5 linked regions of the Homo sapiens genome follow. The protein of the gene in region 2 purifies or fractionates together with the protein of the main gene of each other region. This does not show direct contact. Each region holds a gene or a part of one and is shown on either strand. Other genes may lie near its edges. The genes, in order: CEP135, MCRIP1, ECH1, ITM2B and EIF4ENIF1.

Region 1 (3,518 bases), on a different chromosome or scaffold from region 2:
CTGAGAGTGGACAGATTAGAACTGTGAAGCCAGGTGGGGGAAGACTCAGTGGAGCGTGAGATAGTTTAGTAAATGAGATAGATGGACATGGGGACTGTGAGCAAAAGGCAGAAGAGATAGAGAAAAGTGGGAGTCAACCTTGAAAGTAACTAGAAGATTAAGGCAAAAAAGAGGATAATCAGGTTTCCTGAGGAAAGAATGGGATAGACTCCGGAGAGATTCAAGATGTATAATCAAGATAGTGAGTAAATGTAGATTTGGGAAGCAGAGGAATTCTCAGACTTCTCTTTCGAGTGAATGAGTTAGGTGGAGGGTGATACTATTTCTTAAGTTAGAGAATGTGGGAAGCAGAGCAGGAGTCCACTTTTGGATGTGTGGAGTATGCTATACCCACAAGACATTCATGTCTAAATTTTTGGCAAACAGTGGGATATGTAGATCTGTTCTCAAAAGTGTGGGCCCTGGTGGAGATGCAAATTTAAGAGTCATTGGAGTCTCATGGTAATTGAAGCTATGGGTGTAGTAAGAATTATCTAGTGAGATTATGTAGACTGGGAAGAGAGGAGACCCAGAGTCAGATGTGAGGGAAATTGGTATTTAAGGGACAGGTGGAAGAAGACAGTTTCTGAAAGAAACTGAGGAGCCACCAAGGAGGAAAACCAGGAGGTAAAGAAAGAAGGAATGGTTAGCTTTGTTCAGGTGTGTGAACAAACAGGTCATTTAAATACTTTTGGCCCAGTTTTCTTATCCTTAAAACTCCTTTTGTATACTCCTACCTCTGTAGGAGTATACAAAATTTGTTAGAATTCTAATGAGACAAAATTGTGGATTATGTTTGTTCTTCACAAGGATCTGCTGGTTTTTCAAATACACTTCTAATCTTGGCAAAATCCTTAAAGAGATAAATTGTCCATGTATTTTTGACCAAGACAAGATATATCTAGCCATAAGAAAATTTAGTCCTACTACTTGTAGAGGTTAAGAAAACATTCCCTCCTAATTCAGATTATAGCATGACTTTATATTATAGATGACATTCCATTCATTCTAACTTTGCTACTTACAATTTCAGTTATCTTTTATGTTGATATTAGCTAATAACCACGCATATTTTAGTTCTCACTGCCAGTTTTCTGCTAGTGATAATTTCTTGAGCTCATAATAGTGAACACCACAGGCACATTCAGCTTTTTTTTTTTGAGATGGAGTTTCACTCTTGTTGCCCAGGTTAGAGTGCAGTGGCGCAATCTTGGCCCACCACAACCTCGGCCTCCCGGGTTCAAGAGATTCTCCTGCCTCAGCCTCCCAAGTAGCTGGGATTACAGGTGCCCGTTACCACGCCCAGCTAATTTTTTTGTATTTTTAGTAGAGACGGGGTTTCACCATGTTGGCCAGGCTTGGTCTCGAACTCCCAACCTCAGGTGATCCACCCGCCTCGGCCTTCCAAAGTGCTGGGATTATAGGTGTGAGCCGCCATACCTGGCCGCATTCAGCTTTTAAACTTGCCAAAGTCTTATCCCCATCTAGTGGGCAAACATATTAAGCCTGGGCATATATGCCAAGCTTGCAGGCATATAAAACTTGTTTGATAACCATGTCTTGTTGAGGTTTTTAGGAATGCATTGTTTAGTTAAAGATCAGGGTGGATATTTATATATTGATGGAGAAAATATTTTGTCAATATGTATTATGAACTGCAGACACACTTTATAACCGAAAGGCTAACCTGGAATATTTAATTCTAAGACATGGTTTTGTTTCTTCTTAGTTTTTTAAGACACTCATTCTTTTTAGGTGGCAAGAAAAGAAGTATTGCTTTCAGGCGCCAGCGTATGCAAATTGATGAACCGGTTCCTCCCTCTGAAGTCAGTTCATATCCAGTTCCTCAACCAGATGACCCTTACATTGCAGACCTCCTTCAAGTGGCTGATAACAGGTGCATTAAATAATTCTTTCTTGGCTTGAGTTAATTGAGCACTCAATTAGCTGTAAGTTTCTTGATAGGAGGGCTTTTTTTCTTGTTAACTGTTGTGTCTCCAGTGTCTAGCACAGAACTTTGCACCGGCACTCAGTAAATACTTCCAGATTGATATAAAATGTTTTTACTTGTTTTGAAACTTTGATCAAATGGATCATATATCTAAGGTTTCTGTTCATACTGGCTTAAAAATTATTGCCATCAAGAACCTGTTTAAGTAGAGCTGCTTTGACATTTTGTGTTGTCTCCAAATAAGAGGTATCTTTTGCAAGAATCTTTATTGCTTCAGATTTGTGTCAAATGTCAGTTAAATATGAAGAGATGTGTAACTGGATTTGAAATTCCTTTTTTAATGGTTTCTCTAGCTCTGTGTTTATATTTCCTTACATTTGAATCATATATAAATTCCATTTGATTGAAATGTTATTAAACCTCCTGGGCAAGGCACTGTGTAAGTGTTCTGAGGATATAAAGATGAAGAAGATGGTGTTTCTGTTTTTGAGAAGCTTGTAGTCCAGTACTAGAGATGAGATGAGAAATTCACAAAACACCATTAAGAAAATTATAAGAGGCTCAAAGGAATGGATGAGCACTAGTCTCCACGGTGATAGCTGGAGAAGCATTTCAAACTGTAGAATACACTAATGGAAATAGTTCATGCAGGTAGCTTTTTATTTTGTAGATTATACAGAGAATGTGGGGGGTTTTATTAATCTCAATAGATAAAGCTAAAAAAGAGCACTGGGACCAGGTGCAGTGGATCACGCCTGTTAATCCCAGCACTTTGGGAGGCCAAGGCAGGAGGATCGCTTGAACCCATGAATTCAAGACCAGCCTGGTCAATATAGTGAGACCTTTTCTCTACAAAAAATTTAAAAATTAGCCGAGCATGGTGGCATGCACCTGTAGTCCCAGCTACTTAGGAGGCTGAGGTAGGCAGATCGCTTGAACCTGGGAGGCAGAGGTTGCAATGAGCTGAGATTGAACCACTGCACTTCAGCCTGGGACACAGAGCAAGACCCTTTGAGCTACTGATTAGGATCTCTTCACTCAGTTGTCACATAATATTTTTATATAGTTGTTTGACCTTAACTGGGAAGTGTTTTGTTCTTATTATCTAGGGCTTTTCAGATAATGTGTTTGTATTATTTAGGGAATTATTTGGGCTGCATAAGTGACATTAGTCTTTTTTAATTGTCCTGTTTAATTTATATATGCACATTTTGTTTGTATTCAGAGTCATTCATGCATTTATATGAGTGCAGTTGCATACATACTCTTCTCCTAAACCTAGATTAGTAGAAAATGTTGGTTCCAGTTAACATCAGGTACAAGCCGTATCCAGCCTCATTTACTCCACCCCATGGAAAATCTCTTTTAAAAACAAACCTGGGGCTGGAAGCACTGTGGTTCACGCCTGTAATCCCAGCACTTTGGTAGGCCGAGGCAGGAGGATTGCTTAAAGCCCAGGAGTTCAAGACCAGCTTCGACAATGTGGAAAAACTCTCTCTCTACAAAAAATTTAAAAATTACCCAAGTG
Region 2 (3,518 bases):
ATGCTTGTCCTGTCCATCATCGTATTGGATAAGGAGCCACAGAGACCTCACTGAGCTGCTGGCTTTCCATGGCTGTGCTTCCGTCCCTATTGGAGCAGGCGAGCCTACCTGTGGGCTGCATCACTTTGAATGAGGATGCTGAGGCTCAGAGGAGCTTGCCCGGGGCCCCAGAGCAGGGGAATACCTGCAGCCCAGTAGGCCAGGCCCTGTAGGCTGGACGGCCACGGAAGCAGGCAGTCACGTCCTGCAGAATGCACAGACTTGCAGGTGGCCTGTGCTCTGTGTGGCTGGTGGCAGGTAGTCCTGTGGCAAAGGCTGTTGGGGCAGGAGTGGAGCAGCAGGTGACACCTGGTAAAACAAGTTGGGACTGGACAGTGGGCTTGATGGCAGCAGAGGGCCTGGGTGACACCCTAGTGCTAAGTGACTTGGGGATAGGGTTTCAGGAAGATCATGTAGACATCTGTGTCCACCTGTCCTGATGCTGGGTGTCTGGAACTGGAGGTTGTCCCAGCACTGGGTGGGGTGGGGTGGCGTGGGATGTGGAAGACTTTGAGGGGAAGGGGAGAAAACACCTAAAGACCATGTAGCCTGAGGGGCTCTGGAAGGGTGGTCCTGGGCCAGGAGAGTGTCATCGAGGGTCCTCCCATGTGAGACCCCAGCCATTGTGAGCTGCGCTATATTTTACAGTACATTGAGAAATAAAAACCACCATTGGTTAAATTCTGACGTGTTAGCAATTGTCAGGCGCAGCCCAGTTTCAAAGATGTTAAAATATGAAAACTATGAAAGAAAACTCTCAGAGGCAGTGGGGTGTGGTGTAGCGACTGAGGAGTACGGGGCCGTGGCCGGGACATCGGCATGCTCGGTCTTGATTCTGACAGAAAGAGGGAAGGAAAACGGGACCGAGGCATCGCCTGACCCTCCCTTACTGCTGTCACCCTGGTGGTGGCCCAGGTGGGATGAAGGCAGGGGGCCGGGCTGGATGGGGTCTCGAGACCTCTGAAGTGGGGCTGTCTCTCTGGGCTGAATGGAGCCCCTCCCTCCCACCCTTCACCTGTGGTCGGCCTCGGTCAGGCCGCCACTCCCCTTTACCTGGGCAGCTGAGGTGTCAGTCTCCTGCTGGCTCAGGGGCTGCCACCTCAGGTGGCCGTCTGCCGTGTGCTGGGTCTTTTCCGGCTGCCCCCGGCGCTTCTCTGGGCCTGTGCCATTGTCCCCTGCTCACTCTCACCCACTATGGTCCTGGGTCCCTCCACATCCACCACCTCAGGGACCCCATGCATGGATGTTGTGCCTCAGGGTTCCCTCTGCTTAGCCAGACACCAGCCTGCTGCCCACCAGGCCTGAGCTAGGGCTGAGCTGCCTGCCAGCCACACTTCCTGCCCTCCCCCCTCAGCTGTGTGCCTCACTATGCTAGGCCGCCCCGCTGAGGTTGTTGGAGGCCTTATTGTGGCTCCATGGTGACCTCTTGGTTCAGAGCTTGCTTGACCTCCAGCCCTCTCCGTGGATGGCTCCTTCCTGCCCTCACAGGCACCGTCCTGGCCCCGGCTCCAGTTATGTCCATGCCTCGGCCCTCTGCAGCTTCCTCCCATTCCATGTGTCCCAGGGCCTGTCTGTGGCCCCTCAGGTCCTGCTCTTGTGCTTGGTGTCCGTCTCTGCGTGGGGGCTGTGGTGCCCCCTCTGGCTGCTGATTCCCTTATGGGAATAGGCCAGGTGTGCATTGCTACCCTTCTGCGGTGGCTCTTCCCTTTGGGTAATTACGAGTGAAATTCTCCAGCTGTCCTTGTACGCATCTTGGGTGTGTGTACCTAGGAGCAGAATGGCTGGGTCATAGGTTGTGCACAGATACTTGATTTTTAATGGAAAATTCCTTCTGGGTCAGAATTGGGCACCCAGCTCCTTGGCAGGGCCCCAGGAGGCAGTGAGGCTGAATGAGCTGCAGAACCGTTTATTGTGCTTCCAGGGGGACAGCAGGCCCCTGGCCTCTTGGAACTGCTGGCACATCCAGGAAAGCCTGGGGCTATGTGTGCAGGGTCGGGGGGTGGGGGGGCAGTGTGAGGCCCTGGGGGTCCCTAAGCTGGAGGAAGAAGTAGGGAGAGGTGGGAAGGGCTCTTCGTGTCTGGGAAGACTTAGAGGACACAGCCTGTGGTATTGAGGGTGTGGGTACATTTCTTTTCCTAACAAGAGGAGGCAAACGAGACTCCTTGTTGACTTAAAAAACTGTATGGGTGCAGCTGGGTGTGGTAGCTCACACCTGTAATCTCAGCACTTTGGGAGGCCGAAGCAGATGGATCACGAGGTCAGGAGATCGAGACCATCCTGACTAACACAGTGAAACCCCATCTCCACTAAAAATAGAAAAAATTAGCTGGGCGTGGTGGCGGGCGCCTATAGTCCCAGCGACTCGAGAGGCTGAGGCAGGAGAATGGCGTCAACCCGGGAGGCGGAGCTTGCAGTGAGCCAAGATCGCGCCACTGCACTCCACCCTGGACGACAGAGCGAGACTCCATCTCAAAAAAAAAAAAAAAAAAAAAATGTATGGGTGCACAATAGGTGTATATATTTATGGGGTTTTAAATTTATTTACTTAGAGACAGAGTCTCCCTCTGTCACCCAGGCTGGAGTGCAGTGGTATGATCATGGCTCACCACAGCCTCCACCTCCCAAGCTCAAGCAATCCTACCACCTCAGCCATCACTCCTGCCAAAGTTTTTATATTTTTGTAGAAATGGGATTTTGCCGGCCGGGCGTGGTGGCTCACGACTGTAATCCCAGCACTTTGGGAGGCCCAGGTGGGTGGATCACAAGGTCAGGAGATCGAGACCATCCTGGCTAACAGGACGAAATCCCGTCTCTACTAATAATACAAAAAATTAGCTGGGCGTGGTGGCGGGCTTCTGTAGTCCCAGCCACTTGGGAGGCTGAGGCGGGAGAATGGCGTGAACCCGGGAGGCGGAGCTTGCAGTGAGCCAAGATGGCGCCACTGCACTCCAGCCTGGGCAGCAGAGCGAGACTCCATCTCAAATAAATAAATAAATAAATAAATAAAAGAAATGGGATTTTGCCATGTTGCCCAGGCTGGTTTTGAACTCTTGGGCTCAAGTGATCTGCCCTCTTTAGCCTCCCAAAGTGTTGGGATTACAGGCCTATTTTAATAGGCCAGCAACCGTACCTGGCTTTTTTTTTTTTTCTTTTAGACGGAGTCTTGCTCTGTCGCCCAAGCTGGAGTGCAGTGGCACGATCTCGGCTCACTGCAACCTCCGCCTCCCAGGTTCAAGCACTTCTCCTGCCTCAGCCTCCTGAGTAGCTGGGACCACAGGTGCCCACCACCACATCCAGCTAATTTTTGTATTTTTAGTAGAGACAGGGTTTCACCATATTGGCCAGGCTGGTCTTGAACTCCTGACCTTGTGATCCACCCGCCTCGGCCTCCCAAAGTGCTGGGATTACAGGCGTGAGCCACCACGCCTGGCCTTTTTTTTTTTTTTTTTTTTGAGATGGAGTCTTGCTCTGTCGCCCAG
Region 3 (3,518 bases), on a different chromosome or scaffold from region 2:
GTGGGCTCCTGCACAGCCCGAGCCTCCCCGAGGAGCGCCACCCCCTGCTCGGCGGCGCCTGGTCCCATCAACTGCCCAAGGGCTGAGGAGTGCTCCGCCTGCGGCCCTGGTGCAGGATCCACTGGGTGAAGCCAGCTGAGCTCCTGAGTCTAGTGGGGATTTGGAGAACATTTATGTCTAGCTGAGGGACTGTAAATGCACCAATCAGCACTCTGTATCTAGCTAATCTGGTGGGGACTTGGAGAACGTTTATGTCTAGCTAAGGGATTGTAAATACACCAATCAGCACTCTGTTTCTAGCTCAAGGTTTGTAAATGCACCAATCAGCACCCTGTGTCTAGCTCAAGGTTTGTAAATGCACCAATCAATGCTCTGTGTCTAGCTCATCTGGTGGGGACTTGGAGAAACTTTATGTCTAGCTAAGGGATTGTAAACAACCAATCAGCACTCTGTGTCTAGCTCAAGGTTTGTAAATGCACCAATCAGCACCCTGTGTCTAGCTCAAGGTTTGTAAATGCACCAATCAGCACTCTGTATCTAGCTAATCTGGTGGGGACTTGGAGACTCTTTATGTCTAGCTAAGGGATTGTAAACAACCAATCAGCACTCTGTGTCTAGCTCAAGGTTTGTAAATGCACCAATCAGCACCCTATGTCTAGCTCAAGGTTTGTAAATGCACCAATCAGCACTCTGTATCTAGCTAATCTGGTGGGGACTTGGAGAATCTTTATGTCTAGCTAAGGGATTGTAAATACACCAATCAGCACTGTGTGTCTAGCTCAAGGTTTGTAAATACACCAATCAGCACCCTGTGTCTAGCTCAAGGTTTGTAAATGCACCAATCAGTGCTCTGTGTCTAGCTAATCTAGTGGGGACTTGGAGAAGTTTTGTGTCTAGCTCAGGGATTGTAAACGCACCAGTCAGCACCCTGTCAAAATGGACCAATCAGCTCTCTGTAAAACAGACCAATCAGCTCTCTGTAAAACGGACCAACCAGCAGGATGTGGGTGGGGACAGATAAGGGAATAAAAGCAGGCTGTCCGAGCCAGCAGTGGCAACCCACTCACGTCCCCTTCCATGCTATGGAAGCTCTGTTCTTTTGCTCTTTGCAATAAATCTTGCTGCTGCTCACTCTTTGGGTCCACACTGCCTTTATGAGCCATAACACTCACCGCGAAGGTCTGCAACTTCTCTCCAGAGGCCAGCAAGACCACGAACCCACTGGGAGGAATGAACAACTCCGGACGGGAGGAACGAACCACTCTGGACGCACCGCCTTAAGAGCTATAACACTCACTGCGAAGGTCTGCAGCTTCATTCCTGAAGCCAGCGAGACCACGAACCCACCAGAAGGAAGAAACTCTGAACACACCCAAACATCAGAAGGAACAAACTCCGAACACATCAGAAGGAACAAACTGCGGACATGCCGCCTTTAAGAACTGTAACACTCACCACGAGATTCTGCGGCTTCATTCTTGAAGTCAGTGAGACCAAGAACCCACCAATTCCGGATACATTTTGGTGACCCAGATGGGACTATTACCTATCGCCAAGCGGTGAGACCACTGCCTATCGCTGAGCGGTGAGACTATCACCTATCGCCAAGCAGTGAGTACCACTGGACCCCTTTCACTTGCTATTCTGTCCTATTTTTCCTTAGAATTTGGGGGCTAAATACCAGGCACCTGTCTGCCAGTTAAAAGTGACTAGCATGGCCGCTGGACTAAAGACATGGGTGTCAGGCTTTCTGGGAAAGGGCTCTCTAACAACTCCCGACTCTTTGGAGTTGGGAGCGTTGGTTTGCCTAGAACCAGCTTCTGCTTTTCCTGTACTTCTGGGCTGAGCCGAGGGTCGACAGAGAGGAAAGCCATGCAGCTCTAGGGTCCCGACAAGACAACAAGTTCGTTGACCCTGCAGCCATGAGCGGAACACTCAAAGGCATGTCGCCCAAGCGAGACTCGCCCATCTATCCTATCTATCCTGACTCTTGCCCCCGGGTCCTAATGCCTGCCAGACAAACTTCCTCTCACCTCTCTTCTCCGAGTTTAGTCCTGCTTCTAAAATTTGCTGTCTCTGGTGCTTTTCTAGTTTCTCCTATAAGAACGACTTCTAGAACTCTGTTACATTCTTTAGGCACCCAGGCTCACCAATCAGAAAGACATAATTTTTGCCCAAAGCCCTGTCATAGTGGCGACTACCTGGAATTTTACGATCCCTCCTCAGACTAACAGGCCTAACAAAGGTATTCCTGAAGCTAGGATATGGGGAGCCTCAGAAATTGTAGCTTTCCTATTCATATAAGTGAGGACAAAAGGTGTCACTCTTCCAACCCTGGAGATCCCTTCCCTCCCTCAGGGTATGGCCCTCCACTTCATTTTTGGGGCATAACATCTTTATAGGACAGGGGTAAAGTCCCAATACTAACAGGAGAATGCTTAGAACTCTAACAGGTTTTCAAGAATGCGTCGGTAAGGGCCACTAAATCCGACCTTCCTTGGTCCTCCATGTGGTCTGAGAGGAAAACTAGTGTTTCTGCTGCTGCGTTGATGAGCACAACTATTCCGATCAGCAGGGTACAGGGACTGTTGCAGTTTCTTGGGCAGGGGGAGAAACAAAACAAACCAAAACCGCGGGTGGTTTTGTCTTTCAGATGGGAAACATTCAGCCATCAACAGGCTCACCCTTGAAATGCATCCTAAGCCGTTGGGACCAATTTGACCCATAAACCCTGAAAAAGAGGAGGCTCATTTTTTTTCTGCACTATGGCCTGGCCCCAGTATTCTCTCTCTGATGGGGAAAAATGGCCACCTGAGGGAAGTACAAATTACAATACTATCCTGCAGCTTGACCTTTTCTGTAAGAGGGAAGGCAAATGGAGTGAAATACCTTATGTCCAAGCTTTCTTTTCATGGAGGGAGAATACACAACTATGCAAAGCTTACAATTTACATCCCACAGGAGGACCTCTCAGCTTACCACCATATCCTAGCCTCCCTATAGCTCCCATTCCTATTAATGATAATCTTCCTCTAATCTCCCCTGCCCAGAAGGAAATATGCAAAGAAATCTCCAAAGGACCACAAAACCCTCCTGGCTATTGGTTATGTCCCCTTCAAGCTGTAGGGGGAGGGGAATTTGGTCCCACCCGGGTACATGTCCCCTTCTCCATCTCTGATTTAAAGCAGATCAAGGCAGACCTGGGGAAGTTTTCAGATGATCCTGATAGGTACATACATGCCCTACAGGGTCTAGGGCAAACTTTCGACCTCGCTTGGAGAGATGTCATGCTACTGTTAGATCAAACCCTGGCCTTTAATGAAAAGAATGCAGCTTTAGCTGCAGCCTGAGAGTTTGGAGATACCTGGAATCTTAATCAAGTAAATGATAGAATGACACCTGAAGAAAGGGACAAATTCCCTATCGGTCAGCAAGCCATCCCCAGTATGGATCCCCACTGGGACCTTGACTTAGATCATGGGGACTGGAGTCGTAAACATCTGTTGACCTGTGTTCTA
Region 4 (3,518 bases), on a different chromosome or scaffold from region 2:
ACCTAGGTGAGTACAGCATAATAAAATATTTTGAGAAACCACCTTCACATAACTTTTATTATAGTATTTTGTTATAACTGTTTTATTATTATTGTCGTTAATCTATTACTGTGGCTAATTTGTAAATTAAATTTTAACATATGTATATATGTACACTAACAGGAAAAAACATAGTATATACAGGGTTTGGTACTATATGCAGTTTCAGACATCCACTGGGGGTCTTGGCATGTATCCCCCACGGATAAGGGGGGACTACTGTCCTATAAGATCATGTTAATTTTCTTAGATGTGATAATTATGTGGTTACGTAGGAGGACAACTCATTCTTGAGAGATAATAGCATAAGTACTTATGTCAAATGACAGAAAAAGAGATGAAGCAAATATGGCAATATTTGGAACAAAGTGGAGGATTTTGGGTATTCAACTTTTCTGCATTACATAAAAATGCTCAAAAGCTGGGGAAAAATATAGAATGAGAACTTAAAAACAGATTAACAAAATTATTGATTTTGAAAATGCTACCAAGAAACAGGAACATAAATTACCTCTTATCTAAGAAAATGTGGGAACATATAAAAAATATTAGTTTGCCAGCAAAGGAGGAACAGTCATGAGGTGGGCTTTAAGAGTAGGTAAGGCAAGGGGAAGGAGAGATAAGATATGAGAAGGCTGCATCAGCAGGGTCTGCTTCAGACATAGCAGAGCCCACCAAATGCTGACAGTTTATTAAACTAAACTCTAAATATAATAAATTAGCAAATATTGAAATTAAAACTACAAAAAGCATAAACTACAGAACCTGCATTCTTTCTACAATTCTGGACACTTGGCTCACCTTGTTAAAGTCATGAACAATGTTGGCAGGATCACTATCTGCAAACTCTGGGACAGGCACACTGATAAATTCAACTTCTTCTTCTTCAAAGATTTTAATATTTTCTTCAATTGTCTGGTAGAGAGCAGCTGGGGCATCTGCAGAGGGCTCATTTAAGATGACATCATCTTTGATGTACTTTATTCCACAGTAGTACACGTCATCTGGCTATAGAGAGTTTAAAGACTCATTTCAGCAATTCAGCATGAGACAGGTTTTTAAATAAGCATTACTTAAGCTGCCACCTCTATCTAAATAGCATTTTGCTTGCAAACTCTTGCTTTTAGATGACAAGTCAGACAGTTTAATTACAGAGTTAACATATTCTTTAAGATCAGGTTTTGAAGCACTGTAAAAGAACAGCTTCAGAAGAAAGGCAGCTGGTTTTCCCTTTACTTTTCCTGGTAGGTGAAAATAGAACATAAAAATAATTAGCTATCCAGTAACAAATAAATATAAAGAAACAACAGACCTACTCTACCTGTAAGCAGTTTTTATAGAAGAATACATTCCAAAACTAGTCAAGTTTTTCTGAAAGAATATATTAAAAAGTTTTGATATGGTCTACTAATTAAATGACTTTTTTCTTATTAGCCAAAAAAGGGATAATTTTTCTGAAATTTCTATATGCATATACGTAGTTCTACTTTTCCCTTTATATCACAATTCAGTGGAAAATATTAGATTACAGCAAATCTTTATGCTACTGTCTCACTTTTACAAAAAGAAAAAACAGTACATAAGGTCGGGTGCAGTAACTCATGCCTGTAATCCTAATACTTTGTGGGGAGGAGGCCTGAGACAGATGGACTGCTTGAGCCCAGGAGTTCAAGACCAGCCTGGGCAACATGGTGAGACCCTGTCTCCACAAAAAATAAAAAAATTAGCTGGGTATGGTGCCACGCACCTGTAGTCCTAGCTACTCCTGGGGAGGTTGAGGCGGGAGGATTGCCTGAGCCCAAGAGGTTGAGGCTACAGTGAGCTGTGATTGCACCACCGCACTCCAGCCTGGATGACAGAGTGAGACCCCATCTCAAAAAAAGCCAAACACACAGTACATGTACACGTGCGCGCACGCACACGCGCGCGCACACACACACACACACACACACACTACACACACTACACACACAATAAAGACTAAGGGTATACAAAATGTGAATGCACAGGGCCAGGCATGGTGTGTCACGCCTGTAATCCTAGCACTTTGGGAGGCCAAGGTGGGTGGATCGCCTGAGGTCAGGAGTTTGAGACCAGCCTGGCCAACATGATGAAACCCTGTCTCTACTAAAAGTACAAAAATTAGCCAGGAGTGGTGGCAGGTGCCTGTAATCTCAGCTACTTGGGAGGCTGAGGCAGGAGAATTGCCTGAACCCGGGAGACAGAGGGTGCAGTGAGCCGAGATCGCGCCATTGGACTCCAGTCTGGGCAACAAGAGAGAAACTCTGTCTCAAGAAAAAAAAAAAAGTTAATGCACCAAATGTTATCTCTGGAAAATGGAATTGCGATGATTTTTTCTATACTATATGTATTTCTTGTAAATAAAACTGTATTTAAAAAGATGACTAGTATTTTGGTAATGTCTATCAACATGTGATTGATTATCTTGAACAACACAGAAAATGAGCATGAAATTGAGAATGTTTCAAAATTAGTTAAATTATTTTAATAAGTCTAGTTGTCAACTGTTTCTCCAAATTTTGAAACAGCTGAAGTAGTCATAAAACCTTGAAAGTAATTTCCCCTTCAAAACTCCTAAAAAAAAAAATTGTGTATTATTGCCAAGAGAAATATATTACAAAATAGATTGTAAATTATAATCAATCACAAGGAAGACCTTTGTCTTAACCCACTGGGATTACTATTAAACACTCAAAGTTATAAACAACTTTCATCCTATGTTATTTCAATATCACTGCTGAAGTCACCCAGTTCTTTAGTGAAACCATGACTGGAAAAGAAGCAGAGACATGGTCTTACTGTATTCTGGGCCCAAGGGTACAGCAGGACCATAGGGGAGTCCAAGCTGACTATCAAGTTATGGCCTATCAACATGAAAACATTTGTGGCTGATGTATTTATTCAACTGGCAATTGATAATACTATTCCTCTCAACCCTTAATTATAGTAGGAAAATAAAGGTTAGTAAAATCACCCAATGACCTAAATAAATCCCTTAGTCACCAACATTTCAAGTTACTCTGCTTTTAGTGACTGTGTGTGATGGGCTCAGCAAACATATCATGGAGAGATGTTTAAACACAGCTTTAAAATAGAACTACCACTCTGGCTGAAGGTCACAGATAAAAAGTACAAGCTTAGCGCAAGTTGTAAACAATTTTGTAATGCACATCGGGAGAGGCAAAAAAAAAAAAAAATCAGAGACACAAAATAATTTTTCCACTTACTTGAAGTGCAAAATATTTGTACAAGTATGCTCCTCCTAGAATAACACCTGCAAGCATAAATGCTAGTCCAAAGCACATGCACCAACACCAGGCTCTTCTTTGGCCAACTGGTACCACATCATCTGGGTCCTAAAATATGAAAAAGACAGTTAAATATCTTATCTCCAGACAGAATAACAGAAGGCTCAGGACTAGAAAAACCTTAATGATTATCATTTTAATAAATGAAGA
Region 5 (3,518 bases), on a different chromosome or scaffold from region 2:
GAGACTACAGGCAATACGCCACCATACCTAGCTAATTTTTAAATTTTTTTTGTAGTGACAGGGTCTTGTCATCCTGCCCAGGCTGGTCTTGAACTCCTGGGCTCAAGCAATCCTCCCATCTCAGTCTCCCTAACTGCTGGGATTACAAGTGTGAGCCACCACACCCAGCGAGCAGGTGATCATTTCTTAAGCCAATGGTTCTCAAACTTGAACCAGAGCCAGAATCCCCTGAAGAGCTTGTTAAATGCAGACGGTTAAGCTCTACTCCCCAAGTTTCTCCTTTAATACCACTGAGAAGAGGCCTGAGATTTGTATTTCTAACAAGTTACCAGATGATGCTAATGCTAGTTCAGGGAGCACACTTTGAGAACCACTGTCTAAACCACTCTTAAACCATAACTTTCAGGTGAGACCCCACTCTATAACCTCCAAAAGTCCTTCAACATGATCCGATCACTTTAAAAATGCATACTTAGATACTACCAAAATATAGCTTTTGGTCTTAGGAATGTGGCCTAGAAAACAGACCAGCATTTATAACTTAGGGGTTCAAGACCCTCAGGGTAACAGGTGCATATGATAAACCCATTTATAACCATCCCACAATGAGATTTAGGAGTAGGTCTGAATGCACCCAATGTGACTCTAACTTGAGGTCCTAAAATATTCTTCGAAGCACAATGAACATCATCTGAACCCCAAAGAATAACTATGCATCTGAGTTACTTGACACCACCAACACCATTTATCAAGTTCTCTAAGGAAGACCAAAGCCTTGATACTTAAAGTATAGTCAGTGGACCAGCAGCATGTGCACCACTTGGGAGTGGGTTAAAAAGTAGAATCTTCAGGACCACCCCTGCTTACCACTCAGAATTCCTTTCCCAAGGCCTAAAGGTGATCCCCCAGGCATATTAACATTTGCGAAACAAGCTAACTAAAGGATGTCTTCACACAAAAGGAAACTCTGGTACATTACTCTGAAAAGCACCTGACCAAAACATTTATACTTCTTCTACTCATGGGGGAAAAACAAAAACTCTTCGAATTCTGAACAACAAACTACTAACATTATCCCAGAAAGCAACTGAACACTAAACTAAGAAGGGTCAATGGTTAAGGGGCCCTCTCATCTGGCCAACGTGTTTTTTTGACCCTGTAAGTAAACATACACAGCTACAAGTTTCCACAGAATACACCACCTATTTAAAAAAAAAAAAAAATCACCGGCCGGCTCACACCTGTAATCCCAGCAGTTTGGGAAGCCAAGGTGGGCGGATCACCTGAGGTCGGGAGTTTGACACCAGCCTGACCAACATGGAGAAACCCTGTCACTACTAAAAAGACAAAAATTAGCCGGGCGTGGTGGCGCATGCTTGTAATCCCAGCTACTCAGGAAGGTGAAGCAGGAGAATAGGTTGAACCTGGGGCGGAGGTTGCGGTGAGCGGAGATGGCGCCATTGCACTCCAGCCTGGGCAACAAGAGTGAAACTCCACCTCAAAATCACCAGTGAAAACAGTTTCCCTCTACTGCTTCTAGATCTTCTAGCCCGTGAACTTGAAGTGGCAGAAACATCATTAAAGTCTATTTATTCCAGTACTTTGATCTCAGTACATAGACAAGGAAGAAGGATGGTTTGAATATTATTCCAGTTGTGGAACTAACATATTTATTATAGTGCTAGGAACACATAATCATTTCAAGCTCTCTTTAAAGGGAGAAGACTTCTTTATCCCCAAGTCCCGCATAGAATTACTAGAGTGTTGAAAACCATGAAAGCACTACCCTAACACTGCCTAAACACTATCCTAAAATTGTCATTAACTAAATCCTCTTAAGAGTAGAAAGTAAACCTATTTCCAATTAATTTGGTAGAAAAGACTTAAATCTAAGCTCCACTGTCATTAAGCTAAAAAATGCTTTTAACCAGTTCTTCAAGGCACATTTATCTACGTATGACAGAATTCTGAGGCTGGACTGTCAAAAATGGACAATACTGAGGTTCTTAATCTTTACTGCAAAGAAACATAAGTCCTACCCTAAGAAAGAGAAATATCTCCCTAAAAATGATGTAAGCATAAAGATAGAAACATACACAAAGATGAAATATACATGTTAACCTCTGATCGGTGTGTGAAAGTGATTCAAAAGCCTCTCTGCCTGGACTCTACCAGTAGACTACTGGTTAGAACTTTAGTGAAAAAAATACTGGAAAGGGTGGGTGTGGTGGCTCACACCTATAATCCCAGCACTTTGGAAGGCTGAGGTGGGTGGATCACCTGAGGTCAGGAGTTCAAGACAGGACTGACCAACATACAAAATTAGCCAGGCATGGTGGTGCATGCCTGTAATCCCACCTACTCAGGAGGCTGAGGCAGGAGAATTGCTTGAACCCGGGAAGCGGAGGTTGCAGTGAGCCAAGATCGTGCCATTGCACTCCAGCCTGAGCAGCAGGAGTGAAACTCCATCTCAAAAAAATAAAAATAAAAGTACTGGAAGGGGCCAGGCTCGGTGGCTCACACCTATAATCCCAGCACTTTGGGAGGCCTAGGTGGGTGGATCACCTGAGCTCAGGAGTTCAACACCAGCAACACAGTGAAACCGTCTCTACTAAAAATACAAAAAAAAATAGGCCAGGTGCAGTGGCTCACACCTATAATTCCAGCATTTTGGGGGGCCGAGGCGGGTGGATCACCTGAGGTCAGGAGTTCGAGACCAGCGAGGTCAGGAGTTTGAGACCAGCCTGGCCAACATGGCAAAACCCTGTCTCTACTAAAAATACAAAAATGAGCTGGGCGTGGTGGCACATGCCTGTAATCCCAGCTACTTGGGAGGCTGAGGCAGCAGAATCACTTGAACCCCGGAGGCGGAGACTGCAGTGAGCCGAGATAGCATCATTGCACTCCAGCCTCGGCGACAAGAGCGAAACTCCGTCTCAAAAAAAAAAAAATAAAAATAAAAATAAAAATACAAAAACAAAATTAGCTGGGTGTGGCAGCGTGCACCTGTAGTCCCAGCTACTTGGGAGGCTGAGGCAGGAGAATCGCTTGAACCAGGGAGGCAGAGGTTGCAGTGAGCCGAGATTGCACCACTACACTCCAGCCTGGGCGACACAGTGAGACTCCGGCTCAAAAAAAATAATAAACAAAAAGTACTGGAAGGGGGCCAGGTGCAGTGGCTCACACGTGTAATCCCAGCACTTTGGGAGGCTGAGGCAGGTGAATCACTTGAGTTCAGGATTTCAAGACCAGCCTGGCCAACATGGCAAGATCCCGTCTCCACTAAAACTACAAAAATTAGCTGGGCATGGTGGCGCACGCCTGTAGTCCCAGCTACTTGGGAGGCTGATGCAGGATAATCACTTGAACCCAGGAGGCAGAGGCTAGTGAATCAAGATCGCACCATTGCACTCTGGTGATAGAGCGAGACTCCGTCTCAAAGAAACAAAAAAATAAGTACTGGAACGGCTGGGCGCAGTGGCTCACGCCTGTGATCCCAGCACTTTGGGAGGCCAAGG

The links.
Region 1: the proteins of MCRIP1 (region 2) and CEP135 purify together in Homo sapiens (co-immunoprecipitation; one large-scale study listed by IntAct). This does not show direct contact.
Region 3: the proteins of MCRIP1 (region 2) and ECH1 purify together in Homo sapiens (co-immunoprecipitation; one large-scale study listed by IntAct). This does not show direct contact.
Region 4: the proteins of MCRIP1 (region 2) and ITM2B purify together in Homo sapiens (co-immunoprecipitation; one large-scale study listed by IntAct). This does not show direct contact.
Region 5: the proteins of MCRIP1 (region 2) and EIF4ENIF1 fractionate together in Homo sapiens (co-fractionation; one large-scale study listed by IntAct). This does not show direct contact.

What each region holds. Positions count from the first base shown.
Region 1 is NC_000004.12:55,955,429-55,958,946, forward strand, and holds part of CEP135 (centrosomal protein of 135 kDa), read left to right. Parts: intron 1-1,794; coding exon 1,795-1,936; intron 1,937-3,518. UniProt on the Homo sapiens protein: Centrosomal microtubule-binding protein involved in centriole biogenesis. Acts as a scaffolding protein during early centriole biogenesis.
Region 2 is NC_000017.11:81,826,791-81,830,308, reverse strand, and holds part of MCRIP1 (mapk-regulated corepressor-interacting protein 1), read left to right. Parts: intron 1-3,518. UniProt on the Homo sapiens protein: The phosphorylation status of MCRIP1 functions as a molecular switch to regulate epithelial-mesenchymal transition. Unphosphorylated MCRIP1 binds to and inhibits the transcriptional corepressor CTBP(s).
Region 3 is NC_000019.10:38,821,787-38,825,304, forward strand, and holds part of ECH1 (delta(3,5)-Delta(2,4)-dienoyl-CoA isomerase, mitochondrial precursor), read right to left. Parts: intron 1,612-3,518; exon of another isoform or gene 1,054-1,611; intron 1-1,053. UniProt on the Homo sapiens protein: Isomerization of 3-trans,5-cis-dienoyl-CoA to 2-trans,4-trans-dienoyl-CoA.
Region 4 is NC_000013.11:48,253,706-48,257,223, reverse strand, and holds part of ITM2B (integral membrane protein 2B), read right to left. Parts: intron 3,417-3,518; coding exon 3,288-3,416; intron 1,048-3,287; coding exon 841-1,047; intron 1-840. UniProt on the Homo sapiens protein: Plays a regulatory role in the processing of the amyloid-beta A4 precursor protein (APP) and acts as an inhibitor of the amyloid-beta peptide aggregation and fibrils deposition. Plays a role in the induction of neurite outgrowth.
Region 5 is NC_000022.11:31,483,333-31,486,850, forward strand, and holds part of EIF4ENIF1 (eukaryotic translation initiation factor 4E transporter), read right to left. Parts: intron 1-3,518. UniProt on the Homo sapiens protein: EIF4E-binding protein that regulates translation and stability of mRNAs in processing bodies (P-bodies). Plays a key role in P-bodies to coordinate the storage of translationally inactive mRNAs in the cytoplasm and prevent their degradation.